Linked DNA regions of Homo sapiens: regions 1 and 3 are each linked to region 2. Evidence: fine-mapped expression QTL. A gene starts in region 2. Each other region holds a variant in brackets. All regions are shown on one strand. Distances are from middle to middle.

Region 1 (11,024 bases), 530 kb after region 2:
ACATACTGGAAATTTTCTATGAGTAGATTTTACATGCTCTTACCACAGACACAAAGAAGGATAACTGTGAGATGACAGATACATTAATTGACTTGACTGTAGTAATCACTTCATATATCACTTCAAAACATTATGTTACATATTTATAACATAAATATATTCAATCAAATTGAAATAAAACTGGTGTCATGTCACTGTTTACACAGTACTCATTCTGCTAAAGGAGACTCATTTGCAGCTAATACTTAATGTTTCAGGCATGCACCAGAAAATTGGGAGTGGAAAATGAATGAAATTATTTTAGAACAGTTATTGCATCTATGTGAAAAATTAAGCTTCGCAGAATAATATAAAAACACACCTCATGCAGCTGTGTGTGTTATAATAATCTTTGGGCATGATCTACTTAAGGTAACTACTGACTTTTGAAGTAAATTCTGATGCTTCTTCAGAAAATTCGCGTTTTCTGGTTTTCAGGTGACCAGTGTTATCATTATGACATCCCAGCAGTGGATGCTAGATATCAACAAATATTTTTTGCAAGTTACACATTCATCTACAACCTAATATTTTAATTTTTCACTAAAAATGTGCTTTGACCTTTTCAAGCTGATTGATTGCTGCCAAGGGGTTTATTGCAAAAGAAATGTATGTTACCAAACAATGCAATAAATAAAGGTTGTAGATAAATTATAAAGTAAGTGACAAAACCACTGTACACAAGAACATTCAAACTACGGTTTCTGTGCTCTGTGATGGGCTACTCAGCCTCCCTTTCCTGCACATATTTCACTTCACCTAAACTATACTTTCGCACATTTCCCACTGACCCTGCTGACATGTGGCCAGGCAGCTTCATGGACCTCCCAGGCTACAGCAGGCACTAGTGAAAGGTGGCTGGCAGCAGGGTCAGTACATCTCCCAACGCCACTGAGTCCCTGGAAACTTGTAACTGGACACACTGTAATTTGTCCAGCTGTCTTTCAGAGACCGTGTTAATTGCACCTTATCAGGGAATGGTTGAGAAAAGAGAGAAGGGTATTATAGCTGGTCTTCCTTAGATTTTTATCAGGAGTTACAGTGAGAACTCAGTTTATTGCACAGGTCTCATCACTATTGTTCAAGACTGCTGGCAACTGAGAATGCCAAGGAGAGGGCTACTAAACCCATCCCAGCTTGTCGAATTCCACTGTTTTAATGTTTTTCTAACAATGAAGTGCCCGATAGACGTCAACTGCCTGGGATTGTCTTGAGAAAACCTGGATGTACAGTCACCCCAATTGTGATCCATTGCTCTGCTTATCCTACAACTTCCTGATGAAACATCATCTTGCACTGATTTTACACACAACCTCTATGTACTAAAAATGACCTTTCATTTAAATGTAAAGGAAAGGGTGAGGCTGCAGTTAAAAATGAGACAATGTGAAGCTAAAAGACAGATGGCAACTCAGTGGGCGCGTTCAGATATCCCAGCTAACCTCTCCTGGAAGCCAAATCCCAGGGACAATTTCTGGTCATTTTCTTGCTGGAGCTATTTTCAGTTACAGCAGGCTGAATTCTCCAGGGGAAGAGGAAAACTGGGTAATTTGTCTTACTTTTCCTTCCTAAGTCCAGGGCCTACACAAGTTTGGGCCTACAGCACTGAAATCCCCTTTGAACTGTGCCCCGAGTGAAGTGTCAGGAAACCGCTGCTTTTTTCTGGTGGGGGAAAGGGTGTTGTAGGTCCAAAGTTGTATTGGAGACCAGCTGTATACAAGTCGTGTAAACTTTATTGTCTGAGGACTTCATCACCTGTATAAAGGCCCTCACAGTACGGACTGCCAACACATCTGGGTCAGAACAGCTGGGAACAATTTTTAGTTGGAAAAATAACTTACGTGGAAAAGGAGCATAAACTTTCATCATATATTGGCTGGTTGTAAACTAAGGCCATGGCAAGAAAAAATGCGGATGGCTTGTTTTTCTATTTGGTTAGAGTCAGCTATTTCTGGGGCACATACGGCACACAGTTCTTAGGTGACAGGACCCTGTCATAAAATGAACTGGTCACCTTATTAGCTTTTCTGAGTCCTTCACTAGTGGATTTTGGAAAACAGATGCTAAATGTTTAACAAAATCCACATACAGTTTATTAAGGCTTTTCCACAGTTACCCAATCTACACAATATGCCAGTAGGAAAAAGCATTTCAAAGTAAACAAGGATGAATTAACACAGATTAAAATTGTATATCTTAATATCAAATAATGCCATGTGGACTTAGGAGACCAGATGACTGACTGGAGATGGCCAGACAGGAGAAGATAGCAGAGAGGGTCCTGTCCAGAGGCAGAGGAAAACCATATTGTAAATTTGGAATCACTGACTGTTTTAATCATCAGATAGCTTGCTCTTTTCCTGGTGGAGAAAGCAAAAAGCATGAGGCAGCCTCAATCCACAGAGTGTCTGAGAAATAGAACTACCCATGGTACTTGGAAACTTGACCTTGTCAACTCCGAAAGTGCTGTTTGCCCAAAAGCCATATAAATGGTTAGTTTTTTTAAAACTTCACTTGACCTACTATTCAACTATTCTTTAGATATTTTAATGTTTCTAATCTAAAGAATTTTTTATTGTGGTAAAATATACATAACATTTACCATTTTTGCCACTTTTAACTGTACAACTCACTGGCATTAAGCACTTTCATGGTATTGTTTAACCATCACCATTATCTATTTCCATAACTCGATTTCTGATTTTTCGAGCTTCTCCAAGATACAATATGTATGCCCAAAGAGAGAAAGATGCACGATTTTGCTGGGATCAATAAGCAATTGTTGGTTTGCATTCTTCTGGCTAGGCATGTAGACTATTACAGAGACCAGCTCTTGTTAGGAATGCCTGTATCTGTCAACATATTGTACTTTACCCTCTTTTGAACTTTGCTTTTATTCTAGGATGATTGTAAACCAGAGAAAAGCAACAGAAATCTATAAATGCCCTAAAACATTTCAACAGGACTATATGACTGGCATGGGAGCTGTGGGGACTTTATTATGTTCATATTTGGAAAAAGTCGTTTAAGCCCTGCAATGATTAGATGTGACTGTGTGGGTTAATTATGTAGGAGAAGAGATAGTTTCGTTTTAAATTTCTGCAATTCAAACTGTGTATAAATATCATTTAAAATGAAGATCCAAATCATCCTGGAGAAAAACTCACTGGCCATCAGAGAAATGCAAATCAAAACAAAAATGAGATACCATCTCACACCAGTTAGAATGGCAATCATTAAAAAGTCAGGAAACAACAGGTGCTAGAGAGGAAGTGGAGAAATAGGAACACTTTTACACAGTTGTGGGAGTGTAAACTAGTTCAACCATTGTGGAAGACAGTGTGGCGATTCCTCAAGGATCTAGAACTAGAAATACCATTTGACCCAACCATCCCATTACTGGGTATATACCCAAAGGATTATAAATCATGCTGCTATAAAGACACATGCACACGTATGTTAATTGCGGCACTATTCACAATAGCAAAGACTTGGAACCAACCCAAATGTCCGTCAATGATAGACTGGATTAAGAAAATGTGGCACATATACACCATGGAATACTATGCAGCCATAAAAAAGGATGAGCTCATGTCCTTTGTAGGGACACGGATGAAGCCGGAAACCATCATTCTGAGCAAACTATCGCAAGGACAGGAAATCAAACACCGCATGTTCTCACTCAAAGGTGGGAATTGAACAATGAGAACACTTGGACACAGGATGGGGAACATCACACACCAGGGCCTGTCATGGGGTGGGGGAGGGGGGAGGGGTAGCATTAGGAGAAATGCCTAATGTAAATGACAAGTTTATGGGTGCAGCACACCAACATGGCACATGTATACATATGTAACAAACCTGCACGTTGTGCCCATGTACCCTAGAACTTAAAGTATAAAAAAAAATGTGGTAAAGCTTTAGGCTGTTCCAGTTACCATTGCAAACATGAAAGAACTCATAGTGGAGAAAAACTACAAATGTAAGCAATATGGGAAAATATTTAATTTTCCCAGTTTTCCTCAAAGATATGAAAGCAATCAAACTGGAGAAAGAAAACCTATAACTGTAAGAAACATGATTTGAAAAAGTGAAAGGACTCACACTGAAGAAAAGCCTTACGGTATAAGAAATGTGGTCAGGCATTTAGTTCTTTTGTTTGTTTGATTTTGTTTTTTTGAAACGGAGTCTCGCTCTCTCACCCAGGCTGGAGTACAGTGGCACAATCTCAGCTCACTGCAACCCCTGCTTCCCGGGTTCAAGCAATTCTCCTGTCTCAGCCTCCCAAGTAGCTGGGACTACAGGCACATATCACCATGCCTGGATAATTTTTATATTTTTATTAGAGATGGAGTTTCACCACATTGGTCAGGCTGGTCTCAAACTCCTGACCTCAGATAATCTACCCGTCTCAGCCTCCCAAAGTGCTGGGATTACAGGCATGAGCCACCACGCCTGGCCCATTTAGTTCTTTTAGTTGCATTTGCTGACTTAAAATATCTCATTCTGGAGAGAAGCTCTGTGAATGTATGAGATGTGGGAATGCCTTTGCTTTTCCCATATCCTTTCATAGACGCGTGATCATGCACACAAGATGGACCCTATAAACAGGAGAATCACACCTGACTGGATCCCGAGTAGTGTGGAAAATACAGAAAAGTTCTCAATTTTAACAATTACTTTCAAAGTCATGTGAAAACTCGTACTGGAAGGAAATATTGTAAATAATATTGAAAGCCTGTTGCAAATTCATTATTGTATAATGCTTGAAAAAAATTTACAACATGAAAGAAATGTTATATGAATTATATATATATATTGTGTTTATCAGTGGCTCATTATTAAAGAAGGTCTCTGGACTATAGATTTCCACTGTTTTTGCGATAAAAGATTGAGGTGAAAATTCTGTAGGTACCTTTTGAGTGATAATTGTTTAATTAATCTATGATTAATAGGCCTTTGAAAAATGAATCTTTGTTAATTGTCAAAATTTTTCTTACTTTATGGGGCAGGTTTTGGACAGCCTCACCCATTGTATATATTCCAACTTTTTTTTTTTTTTTTTGAGACGGAGTCTTGCTCTGTCACCCAAGCTGGAGGGCAGTGGTGCAATTTCAGCTCACTGCAACCTCCACCTCCCAGGTTCAAGTGATCCTCCTGCCTCAGCCTCCGAAGTAGCTGGGACTACAGACATGCACCACCATGCCCGGCCAATTTTTGTGTATATATATACTTTTTTTTTTTTTTTTTTAGGAGAGACGAGGTTTCGCCATGATGGCCAGGCTGGTCTCAGACTACTGACCTCAGTGAACCACCCGCCTTGGCCTCCCAAAGTGCTGGGATTATAGGCGTGAGCCAGTGTGCCCGGCCTATATTCCAACTTTTTATTATTATGGAAAAAACTTATCTTTTTTGTTATAAAAAAAGGTTTTTTTTTTAATAAAGAGTTGATGTCAGTTTGTAAAATAGTAAAAAATCAAAATAAAAATGAAGATCATTGTAAAATGAAATGTCAGAATATGCGTGCATTGAACGAAATCAACAAAACACAGACCTGAGTAACTTTAGAATTTTAATCTCCATGAAGCTCAAGATATTCAGATCTAACAACTTTGGTGCTTACAGAACATTTATATCTTCTAACTGTCCCATGTGAATATCCCACATAGACTCTCACCAGCCATGACCCAACTCCAGGTAGCAATGAAGGCTTGTTGAAGTCCCATTTGGAGCATTTATGGTCTATTCCTGGCCCCTACTCTTCTATTCTGAAATCATGGTTGCAAAAGGCTCAGAATTTAAAGGCTTAATTATAAATGTCTCTTAAAGAGAAAAATGGAAAGGGGACTAGTTTAATGGAACAATTCATTTTATGAGTCAAATAGTGATATCCATCATTAATTACATGTGATGCAAATATGGCCAAATGTTAGCACTTGTTAAATCATTATGGCTACTATATGGGTATTGTTTTTATTATTTTCTGCGCTTTCTGGACCTACCATTCCAAAAGTGAAAAAATGTAATTTATAGAATTGACAAAGCAGAGAACATTTTCCTCCTGGGGTAAGCAAGGAAAATTTCAACATTATATTATTTTTGGAATTGACTGGACTTCCTACTCCTAAGCAATCTTACCTGCACATCTTTTGAAATAGACTTAATTGCTGCCTAGAGCTCATAGAAGGATCTCACAGCACTGCTCCAGGGCACTGAAGCTTACAGTGAAAGCACATTTTCAGCAAGTACTGAAGATTGTCTCCAC[G/A]TTGGCTGGTTTGAAACTGTGGTGAGTGAATTCAGAAAATAAATAGTGTTGATTCTTTAGAGCTTTGAGGCTTTGAAGAAAATAATAACCCTTAGTAATTAACATGCCTGTTTGTTTTTAGATCTTTTGAATGTAATCCAGGAAAGGAATGGAAAGGAAAGAAGTGCTCAGAAAGCTCCCAGAAGCATTTTGGCACTCACCAAAGCAGCCGGAAGATGAATAACACAGTGGGGATAGATGGCTAAGTGGGTCCTATTTATGTGTTATTCATCGACACTAGAAAACGTGCTTTAATTCAAAGCATTGTTTTCTCTTCAAGTGTCTCCAGTCAGCATCACGTAGCTTTACTAAATGCTTTTGGTAATGCTAGAGTTATTTCAGCGTACCAAGTGTCTTTGAGTAGTCCCTTAAGGAAATAAAGCTAAGAAAAGAAGAGGGCAGACAGAGGGCATTCGACCACAAAGAGTGAGAATTTCATTGGCTTGTAGAAGAATCCTTCTTGGAAATGGAATAGTTTATAGCAGAGATTCCCAGGCACACATGTTCTTAAGAACAAAGGGGCCTTTGGAATGCTGTATCAGTGAGGATGCTTTTAGTTGCAAGTAACTGCAGATCCAACTCCAGACTGGTTAAGCCAAGAGGAGATTTATTATCTTGCGTAACAAATGCTTAAGTAGCCGTGCTTCACCCAAGGCACACTGGGCTTCTGGTTCCACTTCTCTGTGGCTTCTGGATTTGTCCTCTTCTCTTTGTGGGCTTCATCCTGCAGCAGCTCTGAGCATCACATCCACTCACAACAGAGTCTTGTGGTCTGTTTGGCCCCGCCTTGCCTGGACATGTGTATGTTCATTAGGGAGTACTGATTCTTCTCAATGAGGAGGTGCTGGAACCAGCTGCCAGTGAGGACAGCAGAGGTTGAAAAGACTGAGAGGTACTAGAAAAGTAAGAAAGGAATGTATAATTGTGAATAGGTTAACCCCAGCTCTTGAGGAGGACGTGCCTACCTTCAGTCACCTTTTTCCGACATCTGGGATAAAACAAACCAGCAAATCAAGTGAGAGCAATACCGCACTCCACAGTTTACTGCTGGCATAACCCCTTAAAAGAAGAAACAAAATCTTAAGTGATCGTAAATGAAAGAGGTACTCTAAGCAGAGACACATGTTTTCCAAGTTAAGGCAAGAGCAATAGCATTATTGCCTTATATTTGTTTTTGTTTGGTTGGTTGGTTTTATTTTTTCCTTGACACAAGTTCTCGCTCTGTTGCCCAGGCTGGAGTGCAGTGGAACCATCTCGGGTCACTGCAGCCTTGACTTCCTGGGCTCAAGCAATCCTCCTGCCTCAGCCTCCCGAATAGCTGGGATCACAGTGGGGTCTTGCCATGTTGCCCAGGCTGATCTTGAACTCCTGGCCTCAAGCAATCCTCCAGACTCTCCAAGTGCTGGGATTATAGGTGTGGGCCACTGTGCCCAGCCTTTTTATTTTTATTTTTTAAGATACGGGGTTTCATTCTGTTGCCCAGACTGGAGTGGAGTAGCACAATTACAGCTCACAGCAGTCTCCAACTCTTGGCCTCATGGGATCCTCCCACTTCAGCCTCCTCAGTAGCCAGTATTACAGGCGCATGCCATCATGCCCTACCTTTATATTTGTTAATATAAGCATTATGACAGCAGGATTTTTTTTTTCTTATTCACTACTGGATCTGCAGTGATTAGACCAATGAATAACACACTGTATATTCTCAATAAATATCTGTCAAATGAATGAGTCATGGTGTGGGCAGTTTAATAGTTTAAAAAGACCCAGAAAGAGACAGAGAGGGATCTGGGTTACAGTGCCAACTATATCATTTACTAGCTGTAGAATCTTTTTTGTTGTTGTTTGTTTGTTTGTTTGTTTTGAGACAGGGTCTCACTCTTGTCGCCCAGGCTGGAGTGCAGTGGTGTGATCTCAGCTCATTGCAACCTCGACCTCCCAGACTCAGGTGATTCTTCCACCTCAGCCTCCCAGGTAGCTGGGACTACAGGCATGCACCACCACGCTTGGCTAATTTTCTGTATTATTATTATTTTTTTAGAGATGGGGTTTTGCCACATTGCCCAGGCTGATCTTGGACTCCTTGGCTAAAGTGATCAACCTGCCTCAGCCTCCCAAATTGTTGCGATTTACAGGCATGAGCCACCAAGCCCAGCCTGTAGAATCCTTTCTGTGCCTCAATTTCCTCTTCTGTAAAATGGGGATAATAGAAACCTGCTTCATCGGGTTGTTGTGAGAATTAAATGAATCAATACATGTAAAGTGCTTAGAACAGTGCCAAGCCCATAGTAAGCCCTCAGGAATTGTTGACTGTTCATTATCACTGCTACCACTTACTAAGTTTTTGACTTCTATAAGCCTGAGTTTCCTCACTTGTAAAATGGGAATAATAAAAGGTACCTCATTTTGAGGATGAAATGAGACATTGTTTATTCTTTCCTCACAACATCAGGCACGCGATTAGGAACAACTTGGCCAAAGGTCACTATAATTCCTTATCTATCTCAGTGCTTTTTATTTACAAACTTATTTTTATTCCCATAATATATTGATTCCCACAAAAACTTAATGAGAGAACAGGTCAACTATATGCCCCTTTTACAGGTGGAGAAACTAACACATGGAGCAGCTAAAAGCCTGTTAAGACTCACTTTATAGACAGATAGTAGAGCCAGAAGTCAACACAGCAGCCACCCGATGCTTCTCATTGCAGATCTTCCACATTCTAACACAATTTTTAAGCAGAGACTTCATAGCTGGAGAGTGACTTTATTGAGCAAACGTACAATATTGGCTCAGAAATGGAGGACTTATAAAAACTGTTTCTAGGTGGGATAGTGTCTGGAATTTGTGGGTTCTTGGTCTCACTGACTTCAAGAATAAAGCTGCGGACCCTCGTGGTGAGTGTTACAGTTCTTAAAGATAGTGTATCCGGAGTATGTTCCTTCTGATGTTCAGACGTGTTCGGAGTTTCTTCCTTCTGGTGGGTTCGTGGTCTCACTGGCTTCAGGAGTGAAGCTGCAGACCTTTGCGGTGAGTGTTACAGCTCCTAAGGCGGCGCGTCTGGAGTTGCTCGTTCCTCCTGTCCGGAGTTGTTCGTTCCTCCCGGTGGGTTCGTGGTCTCGGTGGCCTCAAGAGTGAAGCTGCAGACCTTCACGGTGAGTGTCACATCTCATAAAGACAGTGTGGACCCAAAGAGTGAGCAGCAGCAAGATTTATTGCAAAGAGCGAAAGAACAAAGCTTCCACGTTGTGGAAGGGGACCCAAGCAGGTTGCCACTGCTAGCTCGGGCAGCCTGCTTTTATTCCCTTATCTGACCCCACCCACATCCTGCTGATTGGCCCATTTTACAGAGAGCCGATTAGTCCGTTTTGACAGGGTGCTGATTGGTGTGTTTACAATCCCTGAGGTAGACACAGAGTGCTGATGGGTGTATTTACAATCCTCTAGCTAGAGGTAAAAGTTCTCTAAGTCCCCACTAGATTAGCTAGACACAGAGCACTGATTGGTGCATTTACAAACCTTGAGATAGACACAGGGTGCTGATTGGTGCGTTTACAAACCTTGAGCTAGACACAGAGTGCTGATTGGTGCCTTTACAATCCTTTAGCTAGACATAAAAGTTCTCCAAGTCCCCACCCCACCCAGGAGCCCAGCTGGCTTCCCCTAGTGGATGCTGCGCCGGGGCAATGGGTGGAGCTGCCTGCCAGTCCCACACAGTGCACCCGCACTCCTCAGTCCTTGGGCGGTTGATGGGACCAGGCGCGGTGGAGCACGGGGCGGCGCCTGTCGGGGAGGCTCGGGCCATGCAGGAACCCACTGCAGGGGGGCTTGGGCATGGCGGGCTGCAGGTCCCGAGCCCTGCCCCGCAGGAAGGCGTCTGAGGCCCAGCAAGAATTTGAGCGTGGCGCGGGCCGGCCAGCAGTGCTGGGGGACCTGGCGCACCCTCCGCAGCTGCTGGCCCGGGTGCTAAGCTCCTCACTGCCTGGGGCCAGCGGCACCGGCCGGCTGCTTCAAGTGCGGGCCCACTGAGCCCGCGCCCATCCAGAACTCGCACTGGCCAGTGAGTGCTGCACGCAGCCCTGGTTCCCGCCTGTGCCTCTCCCTCTACCCCTCTCTGCAAGCAGAGGGAGCCGGCTCCAGCCTCGGCCAGCCCAGAGAGGGTCTCCCACAGTGCAGCAGCAGGCTGAAGGGCTCCTCAAGCATGGCCAGAGTGGATGCCGAGGCCGAGGAGGTGCTGAGAGTGAGTGAGGCCTGCTAGCACGTTGTCACCTCTCAGGATGATGTAGGGGAAGGAGGGAGGAAGTGACCAGGACAGGAAATAACATTTCACAAGAAGTGCTCTTAAGGGAGGAAGGTTAGAATGATCCATGTGGTATTGGATTAGAGTTAGAGACATCAGAATGAACTCACGAATTTAGCTTAATATAGCTACAGATGGTTACAAATAGATATTTGCAGATATGTATCGATTCATGGATTAGTATGTATAGATACATACATTTTATTGCTCTGTCAGCTAAAAGGGCCTAGAAACCACAACACCCCAATAGTAATGAGCACCCCTAGCACCCAGATCTTGGTTTCTAATACCATTCTCTAGTAAAAGAAACCAGGAATCACTGGAGAAATGGCTGATTCTAGGGCTGCACTAATAACATACAAAAGGAAACTATAGTGC
Region 2 (10,428 bases):
CCTCAAGTGATCCTCCTGCCTTGGCCTCCCAAAGTGCTGGGGTTACAGGTGTGAGTCACCACGCCTGGCCTTTACAAACACTCTATTTTTTTAATTTTTTAAAATTTTATTTATCTATTTATATTTGAGACAGAGTCTGGCTCTATCACCCAGGCTGGAGTGCAGTGGCATGATCTCTGCTCACTGCAAGCTCCGCCTTCTGGGTTCATGCCATTCTCCTGCCTCAGCCTCCTGAGTAGCTGGGAGTATAGGTGCCCGCCACCACGCCTGGCTAATTTTTTGTATTTTTTAGTAGAGACGGGGTTTCACCGTGTTAGCCAGGATGGTCTCCATCTCCTGACCTCGTGATCCGCCCACCCTGGCCTCCCAAAGTGCTGGGATTACAGGCGTGAGCCACCACGCCCGGCCACGAATATGTATTTCTGTTTGAAAACTTGCTGAGACCTTAAAGACTACAGTTAAGAGATTCAGGACCCAGGCTCAGATTCCTTGAATTAAAGTGTTTGTAGGCCCAGGCTGGTCTCAAACTCCTGAGTTCAGGTGATCCACCCGCCTTGGCTTCCCAAAGTGCTGGGATTACAGGTGTGAGCCACAGCACCTGGCTAAGACCCTGTTTCAAAAAATAAAAATAAAAATAGGCTGGGTGCGGTGGCTTACGCCTGTAATCACAGCACTATGGGAGGCCGAGGCGGGTGGATCACCTGAGGTCTGGAGTTCGAGACCAGCCTGGCCAATGTGGTGAAACCCCGTCTCTACTAAAATTACAAAAATCAGGCCAGGCATGGTGGCTCACGCCTATAATCCCAGCACTTTGGGAGGCTGAGGCAGGCGGATCATGAGGTCAAGAGATGGAGACCATCCTGGCCAACATGGTGAAACTCCGTCTCTACTAAAAAAAAATACAAAACTTAGCTGGGTGTGGTGGTGCGCCTGTAGTCCCAGCTACTAGGGAGGCTGAGGCAGGAGAATCGCTTGAACCTGGACGGTGGAGGTTGCAGTGAGCTGAGATCGTGCCGCTGCACTCCAGCCTGGCAACAGAGCGAGACTCCGTCTCGAAACAAAACAAAACAAAACGAAACAAAACAAAACAAAACAATCAGCAGGCATGGTGGCACGAGCTTATAATCCCTGCTACTCTGGAGGCTGAGGCAGGAGAATCACCTGAACCCAGAAGGGGAGCTGAGATTATGCCAGTGCACTCCAGCCTGGGCAACAAAGTGACACTCCATCTCAAAATAAATAAATAAATAAATAAATAAATAAATAAATAAATAAATAAATAGAAAAATTAATTTAAAAAATAGAAACAAATTAAAATGAGGGGCTTGAATTGCATTGGAGACTTATTCAGGGGAATCTTTTTTTTTTTTTTGATGGAGTCTCACTCTATTGCCCAGGCTGGAGTGCAATGGCACTGTCTTGGTTCACTGCAGCATTCGCCTCCCAGGTTCAAGTGATTCTCCTGCCTCAGCCTCCTGAGTAGCTGGGATTACAGGCATGCACCACCATGCCTGGCTAATTTTTGTATTTTAATAGAGACAGGTTTTCACGATGGTCAGGATGGTCTGGAACTCCTCACCTCCACTCGCTTTGGCCTCTTAAAGTGCTGGGATTACAGGCGTGAGCCACCGAGCCCGGCTATTCGGGGGAATCTTTCAGATTAAAGAAAAAGATTGGCTAGATGAGATACTGAGAGATTAAAACTTTGAAATGGCAGTTTTTATGGTTTCTACTTATATCCTATTATTATTATTATTATTATTATTATTATTATTTTATATCTATTTTTTGAGACAGAGTCTTGCTCTGTTTCCCAGGCTGAAGTGCAGTGGGGCGATCTCGGCTCATTGCAACCTCTGCCTCCTGGGTTCAAACGATTCTCATGCCTTACTCTCCCAAGTAGCTGGGATTACAGGTGCCCAGCTAATTTTTGTGTTTTTAGTAGAGACGGGGTGTCTACTAAAAATACAAACCACTGAACCCAGCTAAGTTTTGTATTTTTAGTAGAGACGGGGTTTTGCCGTGTTGGCCAGGCTGGTCTTGAACTCCTGACCTCAGGTGATTCACCTGCCTCAGCCTCCCAGAGTGCTTGAATTATGGGTGTGAGCCACCGTGTCTGGCCTCTACTTATATCCTAAAGATTTTTTTTTTTTTTTTGAGACATAGTTTTGCTCTGTCGCCCAGGCTGGAGTGCAGTGGCGCAATCTCGGGTCACTGCAAGCTCCACCTCCCAGGTTCACACCATTCTCCTGCCTCAGCCTCCTGAGTAGCTGGGACTACAGGCACCTGCCACCACGCCCGGCTAATTTTTTTGTATTTTTAGTAGAGATGGGGTTTCACCGTGTTAGCCAGGATGGTCTCAAGCTGCTGACCTCGTGATCTGCCTGTCTCGGCCTCCCAAAGTGCTGGGATTACAGGCATGAGCCTCCGTGCCCGACTATATCCTAAAGATTTTATTTATTTTTATTTTGGAGACAGAGTCTCCTCTGTCACCCAGGCTTGCGTGCAGTGGGGCGATCATGGCTCACTGCAACCTCTGCCTCCTGGGTTCAAGCGATTCTCCCGCCTCAGCCTCCCGAGGAGCTGGGATTACAGGCATGTGCCACCACACCCAGCTAATTTTTGTATTTTTAGTAGAGATGGGATTTCACCATATTGGTCAGGCTGGTCTTGAACTCCTGACCTCAGGTGATCCGCCTGCCTTAGTCTCCCAAAGTTCTGGGATTACAGACGTGAGCCACCACGCCCGGCCTATCCTAAAGATTTTAAAAACTGTTTTAAAACGACACCCCACTTATATTTAGATTTGATTATTTACAGTCTTTCACCTCAAGGCCCTGAAGTTTTGAACAAGAGGGTTAAGTTGGAAGTACAAGTTCTCGAATCAAACTGCTGGAGCTCAAAATCCAGGTTATTTCTACCCCAGCCCCAGAAACCGTGAGACGATGGAGAAGCCATTTCACCTCTCTGTGTTTCAATATTTATTTATTTATTTGAGCTGGAGTCCTGCTCTGTCCCCCAGGCTGGAGTGCAGTGGCGCGATCTTGGCTCCTTGCAACCTCCACCTCCCGGGTTCAAGCGTTTCTTCTGCCTCAGTCTCCCCAGTAGCTGGGATTACAGGTGCCTGCCACCATTTCTGGCTAATTATTTTGTATTTTCTTCTTTTTTTTTTCAGACAGAGTCTTGCTCTGTGGCCAGGCTGGAGTGCAGTGGTACAATGTCGGCTCACTGCAACCTCTGCCTCAAGTTCAAGCTATTCTCCTGCCTCAGCCTCCAGAGTAGCTGGGACTACAGGCACGTGCCACCATGCCCAGCTAATTTTTTGTAGTTTTGGTAGAGACAGGGTTTCACCATGTTGGCCAGGATAGTCTTGATCTCTTGACCTCGTGATCCGCCTGCCTTGGCCTCCCAAAGTGCTGAGATTACAGGCGTGAGCCACCGTGCCCGGCCTATTTTGTATTTTCAGTAGAGACAGAGTTTCACCATTTTGACCAGGCTGGTCTCAAACATCTGACCTTAAGTAATCCGCCCGCCTCAACCTCCCAAAGTGCTGTGATTACAGGCGTGAGCCACCGTGTCTGGCCCTGTTTTTCAATTTTTACCATTTACAAGTACTTTCAGAAGTACTTAGAACAAACCTAAATGACTAGGGCAAGAAATTTTATCATCTCCGTTTGACACTTGGTGAAACAGTCTCAAAATGTATGACTAGCCCAAGTTCATAGAGGTGATCAATGATGCTACAGTTATGAAAATCAGATATTCATCCAGACTTTACTATGACAAAGATTCTTTGGCCAAACTTTAGTCAGACTTCTGAATCTTCTGCTAGGTCCATCCGTGCACTTCCTTGTAAAGTCTAGTTTTAGCAGAAAACTGAGCTAAGTCAGTTTAGCAAGAACCCCTCTTCCTCCATATCTGATCAGGCTCCTCATCCTCCACCATCTCCCAGGTGATGTCTGATCACTGTGGCCTGTCTTCAGCAAGAATCCTGTTAGATTGATTTGGCCAGAGTTTCACTTACCCCTGAGGTTTCCTCTTAGTAATTTTCTATCTACTGACCCCCTACATTGTTCCTTGGTGAATCAGATTCCTGAACCATTGCTCAAGACAAATGTCTGCCAAAGCTGGTAAGAACAGATGTGGATTCTTAAGGTATCAGTATACTCTGGCTGGGTTTGGTGGCTTGCACCTGTAATTCCAGCTACTTAGGAGGCTGAGGCAGGAGGATCGCTTGAGCCCAGGAGTTTGAGGCTGCAGTGAGCTATGATCATGCCACTGACTCTGGCCTAGGTGACACGGTAAGACGCTGTCTCTTAAAATAAGGAAAAAAAACGCCGGGCGCGGTGGCTCACGCCTGTAATCCCAGCACTTTGGGAGGCCGAGGCGGGTGGATCACGAGATCAGGAGATCGAGACCATCCTGGCTAACACAGTGAAACCCCATTTCTACTAAAAATACAAAAAATTAGCCGGGCGTAGTGGCTGGTGCCTATAATCCCAGCTACTCGGGAGGCTGAGGCAGGAGAATAGCGTGAACCCGGGAGGCGGAGCCTGCAGTGATCCGCGATCGCGCCACTGCACTCCAGCCTGGGCGACTGAGCGGGACTTCGTCTCAAAAAAAAAAGGAAAGAAAAGTATATTCTCTGAAACTGTGTTACAGTCCCAGGCTTCTTTTGAAAGGTACCTTCTGGGCTGGATGTTCTTTCTGGCTCTCTGTGAAGCCTCTGTATTCTCTCTATTGGATCTTGCTTCTCCCATGGGAAATTCTGTCACCTGAAACCCTTCTTCTCTGAAACCAGAAATCCCTACTGATTATAACCTTTGCCAACTTTGTCCACCACTGCCAGATCCTTTCCCTTCTCACTCCAGCCCCACAGTCACTTGCACTTTAGGCTCCCTACCCTCCACTGGGGGCTCTGAAGGGACTGAGAGGACCCTCCAAATCAATCACTTGAGGCTGAAAAGAGAGAAAAAAATGAGACTGTTTTGAAACAGGGCAAATAAAAAAAAAAGTAAAAAGAATTTTCCACAAATATTGGTAAAAAGCTTTAGCCCTTACTAAGTAGGTAAACTCAACTTGTCCCATTTTCTTTTTTTTTTTTTTTTCTGAGGCAGATTGTCGCTCTGTCGCCCAGGCTGGAGTGCAGTGGCACGATCTCTGCTCACTGCAACCTCCGCCTTCAGGGTTCAAGTGATTCTCCTGCCTCTGCCTCCCTAGTAGCTGGGACTACAGGTGCCCGCCACCAGGCCCGGCTCATTTTTTTCTATTTTTAGTAGAGATGGGCTTTCACTATGTTGGCCAGGCTAGTCAAAGTGCTAGGATTACAGGTATGAGTCACCGCACCCGGCCAAGTATTCCTATTTTTATGGCAATATAGTTATTTGCATAATTTCTATAAAAATGTGTTCTCCTGTAACAAGACATAATTGGAGGCACTGGTTGTATTAACCAGGTTTTGACTGGAATGTCATATTTTCAAACATGACCAGATGGCATTAAGGAGCTATGGTTGACTTTATGGAGCCAATAAAGTCTTCGTTTGAAAAACTGGCCTGATTGTTCCCAGACTTACAGGTGAGTGGCCTGAGTGGCCGGGCGCGGGGGCTCACACCTGTAATCCCAGCACTTTGGGAGGCCGAGGCAGGTGGATCACGAGATCAGGAGTTCAATACCAACCTGGCCAAGATGGTGAAACCCCATCTCTACTAAAAATACAAAAAAAAAAAAAAAAAAAAATTAGCCAGGCGTGGTGGCAGGTGCCTGTAATCCCAGCTATTCAGGAGGCTGAGGCCGAGAATTGCTTGAATCCAAGAGGCAGAAGTTGTAGTGAGCTGAGATCACGCCACTGCACTCCAGCCTGGGCGACGGAGTGAGACTCCGTCTCAATAAACAAACAAAAACAAACAAAAAAGCCAAAAAAAAAAAAAAAAAAGAACCACAGATGAGTAAGGAATGTCACTCTCTGGCAGGCCCAGGAACTTCAGTGTATTTTAGGGACCCCCAAGAAGAGAGGAATACAGTCAAATCTCTAAGTGTTTCAGATGTAGCCTGATGGCTAATAGTTTAAGATGTAGTTCAGGTAATCCATGAAGATTTCCTGAAGGAAGTTCGCATGAATGTGAGAGGGCAATTAACTTTTATAATTTTTATTGAGCACGTAGTATATACTTGTCAGATGCTCTTCTACACATTTTACAAATGATTCTTAATCCTCACAACAGATCTTTGATTAGGTTTTTAAGGAAAACTAGTTCTTTCCAAAATAACCTAATGATCACAAAACATATAGAACATACAACTCTGCATCTTGACTATGGTGCGTAGGTCTACATGTGATAAAATGACATTGAACTATACACACATCATACAACTATCAAATCCCTCCTTTTGAGATTGTACTAGAATTATGTAATATGCAACCATTGGGGGAAACTGGGTAAAGAGTAAATTGGATCTCTCTGTACTATCTTTGAGTAGTGTTTAGGTATTTTATAAAAATAATGTCCTACAGTTTGGGTTTGTCAAATGGTTTTCTCATAGTTAGATAGGGGTTATGGCTTTTGGAGAGAAAGACCACAGAGGTCTGTAGTATATTTTCAACTGTAATCTATTTCAAAATAAAAAGTTTTAAAAAAATTCTCCAAGGGGGGATGATTAGTAAATTGATTAGTCCTTTCTAGACCTCCAACACACCCCACCACACACTCACACAGACCCACACTCCTATTAATTCCGGTAACTCGGGTTGTTTGGAATGTGGATAGAGAAACTAAGCTTAACTATGCGCTTCCAGCACCTCGTATCTGGTACTTCTGTTCAACAGAAAGCCTTGGGAATGGGGAGGGCAGGCGTGGTAAAAGGTACAGGTTTGGGAAGGTCGCTCGGTTCCTTCCAATCCAAACGAGAGGCTTCTGATTGTTTATTCTCACACCAGAGCCGTGACCGAGACCCAGAGGTCCGCTTCCGGCCACGGCCGAACAGCTGCACCGTGCGTACCGGGAACGGTCAAGGCGCAGCTGGAACCGCTGCAAAAGGCCTCCGGGCGTACCGGACAGGTCGCAAGGGCGGGGGTCCCCACCTAGCGGAAATGCACGGAGGCCAACCCCTCCCCCTGCCCCCGCGAGGAGCGGGGCGGACTCGGCAGCCGCCACTCCCCAGGCTCACAGGAAGAAACTGGGACGCTGCGGACGCGGAACTGGCCAGACCCGCGGCGCGTGGCACGCGCGAGCCCTCCCGCGCATGCTCCACCCGCCGGCCTCCAGCCCGCGCCCCGGGCCCCGCCTCCCTCCCTGCTTCTCCCCCTCTCCCGTCAGCCTCCCTCCGAGTTTGGCCCCTCCGGCCGGGCGATCGACGTTCCGCGTGCGTGCGGGCGCCTGACTTCACTTCCGGCTAACGCGCTCGGCTTGCCCCCTGGCCCCGGATGGTGACTGGTGGTGGTGCTGCACCTCCCGGGACTGTCACTGAGCCGCTTCCCAGTGTGATTGTGCTGAGCGCAGGCCGGAAGATGGCGGCTGCGGCTGCGGCGGCCTCGGGCCCCGGCTGCTCCTCGGCGGCGGGGGCGGGGGCGGCCGGGGTCTCAGAGTGGCTGGTGCTGCGGGACGGCTGCATGCACTGCGACGCCGACGGGCTGCACAGCCTGTCCTACCACCCTGCGCTCAACGCCATCCTGGCCGTCACTAGCCGCGGGACCATCAAAGTCATCGACGGCACCTCGGGGGCCACACTGCAGGCCTCCGCGCTCAGTGGTGAGTCTTCCGCACGCCGGGCGGGCGCGAAGCCGGGGAAAGAAGCCGTCCAGCCCCGGGGCTCGGCCTCGCGACTCGGGGAAGCGAGATGGCGAGAGGGCAGGGCTGGGGGTTCGGGCCCAGCCGTGAAGGGAGGCCCGGAAGCTGATGGAGGGGGACCTTAGGACTTGGCTTTTTCAGCGGCTGCAGTTGGGAGGAAAGACCGGCGAGTCAGGGAGTGGTGGGAGGGGAGTTGCCTTTCGGGCCTGGAGCGTCCGGTCTGGCTTGGTCCTCCGCGAGAGGTGAGGAGACCTTGGAGCTTGGCACCGGAGGAAGCGAGGCCCGGGTAGGCCCTGGAGAGGCTGTCGGTCCTGCGTCCGGTTAGATGAGAGCGAAAGGCTGGAAGGGTTGACCCCGGGCGGAGAGGCTGGTGGCCGGAGGCGAGGGGCGGGGAGCGTCTGAGCCGGCAACCAAGCCCTCCCTTGTGGGAGAGGAGCCGGCAGTCTGCTGTTCTCAGGTCCCGCAGTGCGGGGGACAGACCGCGGGCTGTGCGCCCAGCGTGGGGGTGGGGGTGGGGTGGGGGTGGGGTGGGTCGTGGTGGGGGTGGGGAGGGAAGTAGGCGGGCCAGCTGCCTGAACTGCTTGGTCGACGACTGTAGGACTCTGCGGACGCCGAAGACGACTAGACCTGGTCCCCTTGCTCGGGGCTTCCAACTTCTACGCCCCAGTGACGAGAAAGTCAGGACCTGTGGTGTATGAAATAGATTCCTTTGGGTTTGTAACTTCAGGCTGTCTCTACTTGTTTTCCCACAGCGAGCCGAAAATTAGGATTTGAAGGTGTGTCTGAGTCTCACCATTGGAGGAGAGCACTTCTGGGTGGCGTAAACCTTGGTCCAGGGACGGGACTTTCAGATGCGTGAGGTGTATGCTCAGTGGACGGACTGGAGTGGTTTTGGAATGGCCCTGGCTGAGTTAGATTTGGCGGAGATGACATTTCATTTGTGGTTAAATGATGGGTGGCTTAATTTGGATGTTGTAGGTTTAGATTGAAAAGTTAGTGTATGAGTGAATCGGACTCCTGCATAGAGATGTAATGTATACAACTGTCTGCGTTTAGCCAAGTGGAAGTAGTTATGTGGTCAACCAATTCACTTGTATTTTAACGTAGACGAACAAGGAAAAGTTTACTATGTGAGTAATAAGGCATTTGTAAGAGTAAATGGCAATTTAGGGATGCAAACGTGAAATTAGACATGTTAATTATTGTTGATGTGAGAGTTGTGAAAGAATTGGATTATGTATAGTTTCAGGATATAAACTTGGAACATATCTAAGAGAAAGTTTTGGGAGGTAGGTTTGTAATTTTTTCTTTTCTTGGCTTAGGTAAATGATGGGGTGGCCCAGATGTAGCAGTGAACAGTTACTGCAACTTGGACATAATGGCTTCTCACTGTGTGTAAGAGGGAGATGCTCATTGGTAATTGGATGTCTTTCTTTTTAAAAGTCATTTAAAAGTATTTCAAGTATGAAAAGGTATGAAGAGTAATTACAGTGAACACCATGCATCCCCAACTCAGGTTAAGAAATAAAACTTTACAAATAGGATTAAAATCTCAGCTGAATCTCTCCTGGACTGCATTTCTCCAATCCTCCCTCTTCATAAACGTTATCTTTAATTTGATTTTATCCTTTTCATATATGTCTACACTTTCTAGTATATGTTTCTATCTTGAGGATGTAGTATTTTTGTGATTTTTAACTTGGAATAAGTGGTATATGTACTAGGATTTCTAAAGAAAGTCATTAACAAAAGTATTCAAGTGTTTTGGATAGAAAGAGGAATTTTATGGTGTGCTTTTTATGTCTGGAGGCCATGTTTGAGAATAATAATGTGTGTCAGGATTTGTTGGTTGGGGAAATTGGACATATATTTATGTGCCTGTACATGGAAGGAAAGACAATATTCACTTTAGTGGTAGATTACTAAAGAGGAGGGTTTTAGATGTATAACATGAAGGTGTAGGTAGATAAGTAAAATGTAGCATTGATTTGGGATAACAGGTTTTGTTGGGGCATCTGTTGATTAGAAGAGTTCGGGATTGGATACAATTGCAGGTCCCCATGCATGAAGATTGAGTATGTGAATTAAAATATGTAGAAGGGTTTATAGTGAACGGAATGAAGGATTACAGAAAAAATTTGGAAGTTAACAATGGATGCATTCTGAAACATTTTCATATATGAGAAGTGAAATTTATTATTATTTGTAAAATTTATTCGTATTTGTAGAGATGGGGTTTTGCTGTGTTGCCCAGGCTGGTCTTGAACTTCCGGCCTCAAATGATCCTCCCACCTCAGCCTCCCAAAGTGCTGGTATTACAGGCATGAGCTGTCCCACCTGGCCAGAAGTTTGTTATTAATAATAATTATCAGAGGTTGTATAGGGTCCTATTTGCCCCAGTTCAGATGATTGAGGAGGGAATGCTGCATTTTATGTTTTACTTAGAATCTGCAGGTATTTAGTAAGTTTGCTTTTAATGATTAATAGAGGGTGACAGCCCTATAAATAGAGTAGAGAGAAGATGCCAGTAGCGATCATGGTCCTAACATAATCCCTCTTTCCCGTTTATGGGCAATGGGCCACTTTCTTTTCTACCACAGAGGAAAGACATCTGTGTCTGAGGGGATAAAGACTAGGTGAT
Region 3 (8,000 bases), 260 kb after region 2:
ACATGACTGCACTCCAGCCTAGGTGACAGAGTCTCAGAAAAAAAAAAAATGGTAGTAGATAGTACAGATGAAGTATAAAACTATCTATATTCTAAAAGACATCTGACTAAATTTTTGAGAAGTTTTTTTCCTTTCCTTTCCTTTTCCTCTCCTCTCCCTCTGCTCTCCTTTCCTTTCCTCCTGTCCCATCCCGTTTCGTTCTCGTTGCCCAGGCTGGAGTGCAATGGCATGATCTTGGCTCACTGCAACCTCCACCTCCCAAGTTCAAGCTATTCTCCTGCCTCAGCCTCCCAAGTAGCTGGGATTACGGGCATGTGGCACCACGCCTGGCTAATTTTTTTGTATTTTTAGTAGAGACGGGGTTTCACCATGTTGGCCAGGCTGATCTTGAACTCCTGACCTCAGGTGATCCACCTGCCTTGGCCTCCCAAAGTGCTGGGATTACAAGCGTGAGCCACCGCCCCGGCCTATTCTTTATTTTTATTAGTTACCCTTCTACTAGCAAACTCTCTAAATATGTTTCTGATATATTTCTCATTGAACTGTTTTTTATTGAAGATGGTTTCTAAAGTTGTCTTGCAAATAGAAATTTTGCCCTTATTCTAATGTGTATATATAAGGAGAATGCCATTTCTTTTTTTTATTTTTTTGAGATAGGACTTGGCTCTGTTGCCTGTGCTGGAATACAGTGGCGGAATCTCGGCTTACTGCACCCTCCGCCTCCCCGGTTCAAGTGATTCTCATGCCTCAGCCTCCCGAGTAGCTGGGACTGTGTGCGCATACCACCGCAACTGGCTAATTTTTTTTGTATTTTTTAGTAGAGGCCAGTTTTCACCATGTTGGCCAGGCTGGTCTCGAATGCCTGACCTCAGGTGATCCGCCCGCCTCGGCCTTCCAGACTGTTGGAATTACAGGCGTGAGCCACTGCGCCTGGCCACGTTTCCTTTTCTTTAGGAAAAAAATTGGATGATATGAGTTTCCAAAACCTGTATTAATACACTGAAGTGGTTTTTTTCACGTCATCCTGAAGTGTGGCTCTGTGTGTGTGTGTGTGTGTGTGTGTGTAGCTTTTTGCCTGTGATTAGTTGTCTCTCCATAGTATACCTAAATAGAATTATACTTTTCACCTGCCATATCAAATGACGTTAGCATCACAACTTGCTGTGATTGTGTCCAGAAACATTTTTCTTTCTTAAAATTGTTTCACTTGATCATTAATTTCTTAAATTGTGCTGGAAAGTTAACATTTTAGAGGAAAAAATGGTATATTTACCTGATATAAAATTGATCTTTAATATAACTATGCAGATGTTCTACATGAATACTATGAAGCCACCTCCTTCATCAGATAGCACTGATGAATATTTCTTTTTCTTTGGCTTTTGCTGTTACTGAGTAAATTTATATTCCAGTGTCCTTTGAATGACAAAGTTGGATACTTTACTTTTGCAAAGATCGCGCCACGGCACTCCAGCCTGGGCAGCACGGTGAGACTCTGTCTCAAAAAAAAAAAAAAAAAAGTAATTTGTTTTATGCATATCATTTTTTTCAGGAAGGATAAACACAGGGAACTCAGAGAAGGGGATGACTTTTACAAAAAGCAAATATGTATAATTTGAGACAATCAACTTTCTCATTCTTTAGAACCTAGCTTGCGTTAAAGGGGCCACTCCTTGGCCATGTATGCTTTCCCAGTTTTCCTAATCAAATGCCACTCGCTACTCTTTGAATGCCCTGGGCTTTTTGCTTTTGTTTATTGTTGTTCTTTAAAATATATTTTTTTGGTACACTCCCGTCCCATCTGATTCTGTTGTTACCACTGTTCTTCATTTAAAGCTGTGTCATACTTACTTCTGTATCCCAGAGGCTTCAAACCCAATAACTATTAAATGTGGTGGGATCGTATTGGTGTTTGACATTCATTCCCAGAGCTTTCTAGTGATTTTCCCTTTATAGGTTTGATTGTCTGTTCTTTAGGGCAGACATGCTCCCTGGGCAATGCTCAACCAGAATACAGAGCAATGTTTCCAAATTGATAATTGTTTTCTAATTTAAATTTGTCAGAAATAGACTCTTACTACTATATGTTGGTAGAAATTTTACTCAGTTTTTCAAAGATAGAATTGAAAGATAGAATTTAAAAATCGCAAATGTAAATCACAGTAATAATAAGGAAATTTAACTTCCTAAAATAAAATCCCATCTATAAATTAAACAGAAGATAAAATTAAGCAAGTAAGAATAGTGCCATTTCTGGGGATTTCTGTGTGAATGCCTTTGGCATTTAGAATATACTTATCTAGGTGTTCTTTGAGTTATCTTTTAAAGGCAGAAATTTCTCTGTTGTCAATACTTTTTAAATCTTTTCGCCTGGTTACTTATTTAGCATTTGCCTTCTGAGTATATTGTATCATATGTGTCTTGTGGTCTCTGGACAGGATTAATTTTCCAAGTGTCTGACCACAATTGTACACTCTTTTCTGCTATAAATTTGTTTTCTCTTTTCTCTCCTCCCCTCCTCTCTTCTTTTCTTTTCTTTTTGATGGAGTCTTGCTCTGTCGCCCAGGCTGGAGTGCAGTGGCGGGATCTCAGTTCACTGCAACCTCTGCCTCCTGGGTTCAAGCAATTGTCCTGCCTCAGCCTCCCAAGTAGCTGGCACTACAGGTGCCTGCCACCATGCCTGGCTAATTTTTGTATTTTTAGTTCTGACCTTGTGATTCGCCTGCCTTGATCTCCCAGAATGCTGGGATTACAGGCGTGAGCCACCACACCGGGCCATAAATTTCATATATTTCAACACGTCATATCAAATCATGAGCTTGATTTTTCCCTGCTAATATTGTAGAGTTGATTAAATTGCCTTTTTTTTTTTGTTTGAGATGGAGGCTTGCTCTGTCGCCCAGGCTGGAGTGCAGTGGCGCGACCTTGGCTCACTGCAAGCTCCACCTCCCGGGTTCACGCCATTCTCTTGCCTCAGCCTCCCAAATTGAGTTTTATGGATAGAAAAACATTGCAGTGTCTGTATATTTATTTCATTAAATGTATTT[A/G]TAATAATATTCTAAATATTAATTTAAATGTATTTATAGAATAAATTATTTAAATGTATTTATAATACATTTTACTTCTTTGTAATGTCATTTACTGTGTCTTTTAAATTTGACTGTAAACACTGCTTGTTCTCCTGTTTACTTTTTCTCAAGGTAATACACAAACATTTTTACTTGAAAAGAGTTGAGATAATGGCCCAATGTGAGGAGTGGATTGCGGATATCCAGCAGTACAGCAGTGATAAGCGGGTAGGCAGGACTATGTCTCACCATGCAGCAGCTCTCAAGGTGAGTAAGCCTCTCTAACAGGAGCCTTGTTGCTTTAAGAGTTGTGTAATTATTGACAGAACCATGCCTACCAGAAGATAATGGGAGGGAGGGAATTAAAGAAACATAATATGTATTTTCAGTTCAGAGGAATAAATTGTTACTCAGAAGTCTATAGAAAAGATACATTTTTTTTTGGTAGTAGATTGACAGTTCCTAAAATAAAAAGTGGGTCCAAGGACTGAGACAACAGAGTTTTGTAAAGTTCCTTGAAGATAATGATGACAAGATGTGCTCCATGAATGCCTTTTCCTTTTTCTTTTTTTCTTTTGAGACTGGATTTCATTCTGTTGTCCCAGCCTAGAGTGCAGTGGTGGCATCATGACTCTCTGTAACCTTGAACTCCTGGGCTCAAGCAGTCCTCCCACCTCAGCTTCCCATGTAGCTAGGACTACAGGTAGCTGCCACAGTGCCCAGTTAAATTTTTTTATTTTCAATTTTGTAGAGATGGGGTCTCACCCTGTTTCCTAGGCTAGGCTCAAGTGATCCTCCCACCTCAGCCACCCAAATCACTGGAATTATAGGCATGAGCAACCGTGCCAGACTTGAAGGACTTCTTTTATTCCCTTAGTCTTTCCCTAGGCCTCCTGCCTTCCAGAATTTTATTACTTGGAGTGATGAGGGAGATTTGAGTTGCAGATTCTCCCTCAGCTGATGGTGGCAGTGGCTGTGTTAGGGGAGAAAGCAGTTGTTTTCAGTTTGGACGTTCATAGAATGGAAATGTGAAATGTGATTGGTTTGGAAGATTTTCTGTCTACCCACGGAGATCTTTCTTTGTAACAGCCTTCCTTTTTTCCTGCATCTGAATGTCTTTACTCATTTCATCCTCCACCAATATCCTCCCTTTTCTATCTTCAGGTTTTTCCATTTCTACTGGCTTGTTATCTTCTAACTTTAAAGCTGTCTTCACTTCAAACAACTAGTTGATGATAAGGATTTGTTAGTTTTTTAGGTGTGATTTTTAAAAAGATCCCTATCTTTTCAGGACATGTACAGAAATATTTGTGAATGACAAAGTGTATGATGTCTGGGAATTACTTCAAAATAAAATGACAAGGGGAAAGTGTGGGAATATAGATGAAAGAAGATGGGCCATGAGTTGATAATGGTTGAAGCTGTGTGATAGATTCATGGGACTTCATTGTACTCTTCTGCCCACTTCTGCATATGTTTGAATTTTTTCACTATAAAAATGTTTTGAAAAAGAGAGAAAAACACTTGCAGAAAATTTCCCTAAGCTAGTTCTATTTTGCCCCTATTATTATGAAACAGATTGTCTTCTTTCACCGTCAGACTATAGCAGTTGACACTTCTTGCCTCCATTTTTTAACCTTTGTCTCACTAATCAACCTTATGCAGTTTGACTTCTATTTTACCAAAGTTACCATCTCTCCAGTTCTCAACGCCAGTGACCCTGGCTCACTTCTCCATTCACTTCATCTGCTCTCCCTCCTCCAGGCCTTTACACATGGTTTCCATTTTCCTCTACTTTTCAGCTCTTCTGCTTGCTCACCTCCATTCATATTTCAGCTTAAATTTCACTTCATGGAACCCTGCCTTGACTGGTTTGTTTGTTTGTTTGTTTGTTTGTTTCTGAGACACTGTCTCTCTCTGCCACTCAGGCATGATCTTGGCTCACTGCATCTTCCGCCTCCCTTGTTCAAGTGATTTATCTGCCTCAGCCTCCTGAGTAGCTGGGATTACAGGCATCTGCCACCAGACCTGGCTAACTTTTGTATTTTTATTTTCATTATTTATTTTATTTATTTATTTATTTTAGATGTAATCTTGCTCTGTTGCTCAGCCTGGAGTGCAGTGGCTTGATCTCAGCTCACTGCAGCCTTAACCTCCTGGGTTCAAGCTATTCTCCTGCCTCAGCCTCCTGAGTATCTGGGATTACAGTCACCTGCCATCATGCCCAGCTAATTTTTGCATTTTTAGTAGAGACGGGGTTTCACCATGTTGGCCAGGCTGGTCTCGAACTCCAGGCTGGTCTTGAACTCCTGACCTCAAGTGAGCCACCGCGCCCCGCCTGACTGATAGACTATTAGATCATTTCAGTATAAGCATTTCTAACCCTCTGCGTCTACCTGTTAAAACACTCATAACATTTGTCTAATGTTTGTCTTTTGTACTATACTTTTCATCTGTAGACTATCTTGGCTTTTCTGCTTATACTCTTCTTAATTCTTTCAGTGTGTTTTCCTTTTTCTTTTTTCCTGAGCAATTGTTTACCTGAAGGCTTACTTTTTGGCCTTCAGAACTATTTTTTTTCTGTCTTTCTGTTTTTCCTTCATTGTGTCTGTAACCCTGACTTTGGCCATTTACTCTCTAAAAGTGACACTTCAAACTGTTGTCAGCTGTTAGCTTTCTCTTGAGTTGTATTACTGACATTTTTTACATAGATACCCTGTCATCATCTCCTTAAAGGAGATTTTCCTCAAATCAAGTTTTCTAGCTTTCTATTTACTTAATTTTACTTGATTTTAAACCATTTTTCTCTGTCTTAGAATCTTCAAGTATTATGTATCTCATCCTTCATCCAGCACCCCTGGTCAGTACTAGGTCCTGTCAGTATTACTTCATGAGGGGACTGTCCTCTCCCCAACCCATGATTTCTGTTGAGTTCCCACAGCTTTGTCTGTTTGTCCAGCTTCCTTGTACCAGGTTCTCCCCCTTTCAGTTCCTTCTTTAGTGCATTACCAGGCTGATCTTCCCCAAATATGTATTTAGATATGTTTTTCACTTACACAAAACTGGCTCAAGTCCAGCTTCTTTTCATTCAGTGTCTTGCTTATATCCGCATTCCTTTATTTCTTCTGTGTCACTGTCACCTGGAATTTTCCATCTCTGAATTAATCCAAATTTATATCATTTTAACTGTACATTTGCTGTTGAGTGCTACACAAGAAAAATACACAATTGGCCAGGCGCAGTGACTCACGCCTATAATCCCAACACTTTGGGAGGCCAAGGCGGGCAGATCACTTGTGGTCAGGAGTTCAAGACCAGCCTGGCCAACATGGTGAAACCCCAACTCTATTAAAAGAAAATACAAAAATTAGTCAAGTGTGGTGGCTCATGCCTGTAGTCCCAGCTGCTGGGGAGGCTGAGGCAGGAAAATCGCCTGAACCCGGGAGGTGGAGGTTGCAGTGAGCTGAGATTGCGCCATTGCTCTCCAGCCTGGGCAACGAGTGTAAAATTCTGTCTTAAAAAATAAATGAAAAGTATGTAGTTGTTTAGCTTGACTCCACAATAAAATCATAGTATCCCTGTATTAGGCTGTTCTTTCTTTGCTATAAAGAAATCCTTGAGACTGGGTAATTTATAACAAAAAGACATTCAATGGGCCCATGGTTCTGTAGGCTGTACAGGAAGCATGGAACTGGCATTTACTCTGCTTCTGTAGAGGCCTCAAGGACCTTATACTCATGGTGGAAGATGAAGCGGAATCACGAAGGCGTAGGGGTGTGGGAGGTGCCACACTTTACAACAACCCGATCTCGTGATAATTCACTCACTATCTCAGGACAGCACCAATCCATGAGGAAACTGTCCCCATGATCCCCATTTCTCTCACCTCCAACACAGGGATTACATTTCAACATGAGATTTGGGCAGGGACAAATATCCAAACTAGATCAATCCCCAACCTTAACTCAGTTCTCATGATTGCCAGATTTTTCTTTCTCCTTCCCTGGTTAGTGATTTCACCTGTTGTCCACAGTGGAAGGAAAATCAAGGCTAGGGAAATTCTCACTTACCGGCATGTAAATGTGCTTTGAAACTTTGCAAATAGCTGCAAGGTAGAGTTGTTTTTTCCTATTTATGTGTCTTATAATTTCAGCCAGAATTTTAGACTCCATAAGCTTAAAGATTTTATCCTCATTCTACTCATTGCCTTTATGTTGTTGGTATTTAACACAGTGCCTCATACATAAAAATTGTTCTGTAAATAAATGTTGTTTAATTTTCAAAGTCAGCTGTTGACACTATTTAGTTTTTATTTATTTTATTTTATTTTATTTTTGAGATGGAGTCTCGCTCTGCTGCCAGGCTGGAGTGCAGTGCTGTGCGATCTCAGCTCACTGGAACCTCTGCCTCCCTGGTTCAAGCGATGCTCCTGCCTCAGCCTCCCAAGTACCTGGGACTACAGGCACACACCACCACACCCAGCTAATTTTTGTATTTTTTGTAGAGACGGGGTTTCACCATGTTGGCCAGGATGGTCTCGATCTTTTGACCTCGTGATCTGCCCGCCATGGCCTCCGAAAGTGCTGGGATTACAGGCGTGAGGCATCAGACCCGGCCGACACAATTTTAAAAGCCTTTGGTGTGATTATTTAAGGTCATTTCTCTCTCACCAGAAAATTATGAACCAAATCTTTGCATGTGTTAGACAACCAGCCACTCCCAATTAACATGCCTATATCCTTACGTAAACTGCAATATAGAGCAAAGCAAAGTTTATTTAATCTCTATAGATCTTCTTTTTAACTCAATTTTGTAAAAAGTTCTAATGATAGGCTGGGTGCAGTTCTTTGTTCTTCTATGATCTTTTTAACTTAATTTTTTAAAATTCTATGATCTTCTTTTTAACTTAATTTTTTAAAAAGTTCTAATGAT

Direction of the effects. Positions count from the first base shown, and alleles are read on the strand shown. Sizes are in standard deviations (SD) of each study's normalised expression. Not every link is listed here.
For the expression in fibroblasts of the gene that starts at base 7,285 in region 2, allele A in region 3 goes with a higher level than allele G (small effect, 0.17 SD a copy in GTEx).

What was found. PIP is the estimated chance that this variant, and not a neighbour inherited with it, causes the effect.
Region 1: its variant is fine-mapped to the expression of BIRC6 in monocytes (TOPMed, PIP 0.99).
Region 3: its variant is fine-mapped to the expression of BIRC6 in fibroblasts (GTEx, PIP 0.97).

The regions. Positions count from the first base shown.
Region 1 is chr2:32,876,502-32,887,525 of GRCh38, forward strand. LOC105374453 (a long non-coding RNA gene) reads right to left here. Exons shown (of 3, transcript XR_939938.2): 3 at 9,487-9,514. Among named protein-coding and RNA genes, the nearest start is that of LINC00486, 57 kb to the left of the region's middle. RefSeq lists a silencer at 9,584-9,784. The variant G/A (reference allele first, on the strand shown) is at 6,305.
Region 2 is chr2:32,349,739-32,360,166 of GRCh38, forward strand. BIRC6 (baculoviral IAP repeat containing 6) reads left to right here and starts at 7,285. Exons shown (of 74, transcript NM_016252.4): 1 at 7,285-7,748. The coding sequence starts at 7,424. RefSeq lists enhancers at 6,956-7,468, 7,983-8,495 and silencers at 6,972-7,341, 7,502-7,731.
Region 3 is chr2:32,608,248-32,616,247 of GRCh38, forward strand. It overlaps BIRC6 (baculoviral IAP repeat containing 6), which reads left to right. Exons shown (of 74, transcript NM_016252.4): 73 at 3,201-3,335. Among named protein-coding and RNA genes, the nearest start is that of TTC27, 16 kb to the right of the region's middle. The variant A/G (reference allele first, on the strand shown) is at 3,048.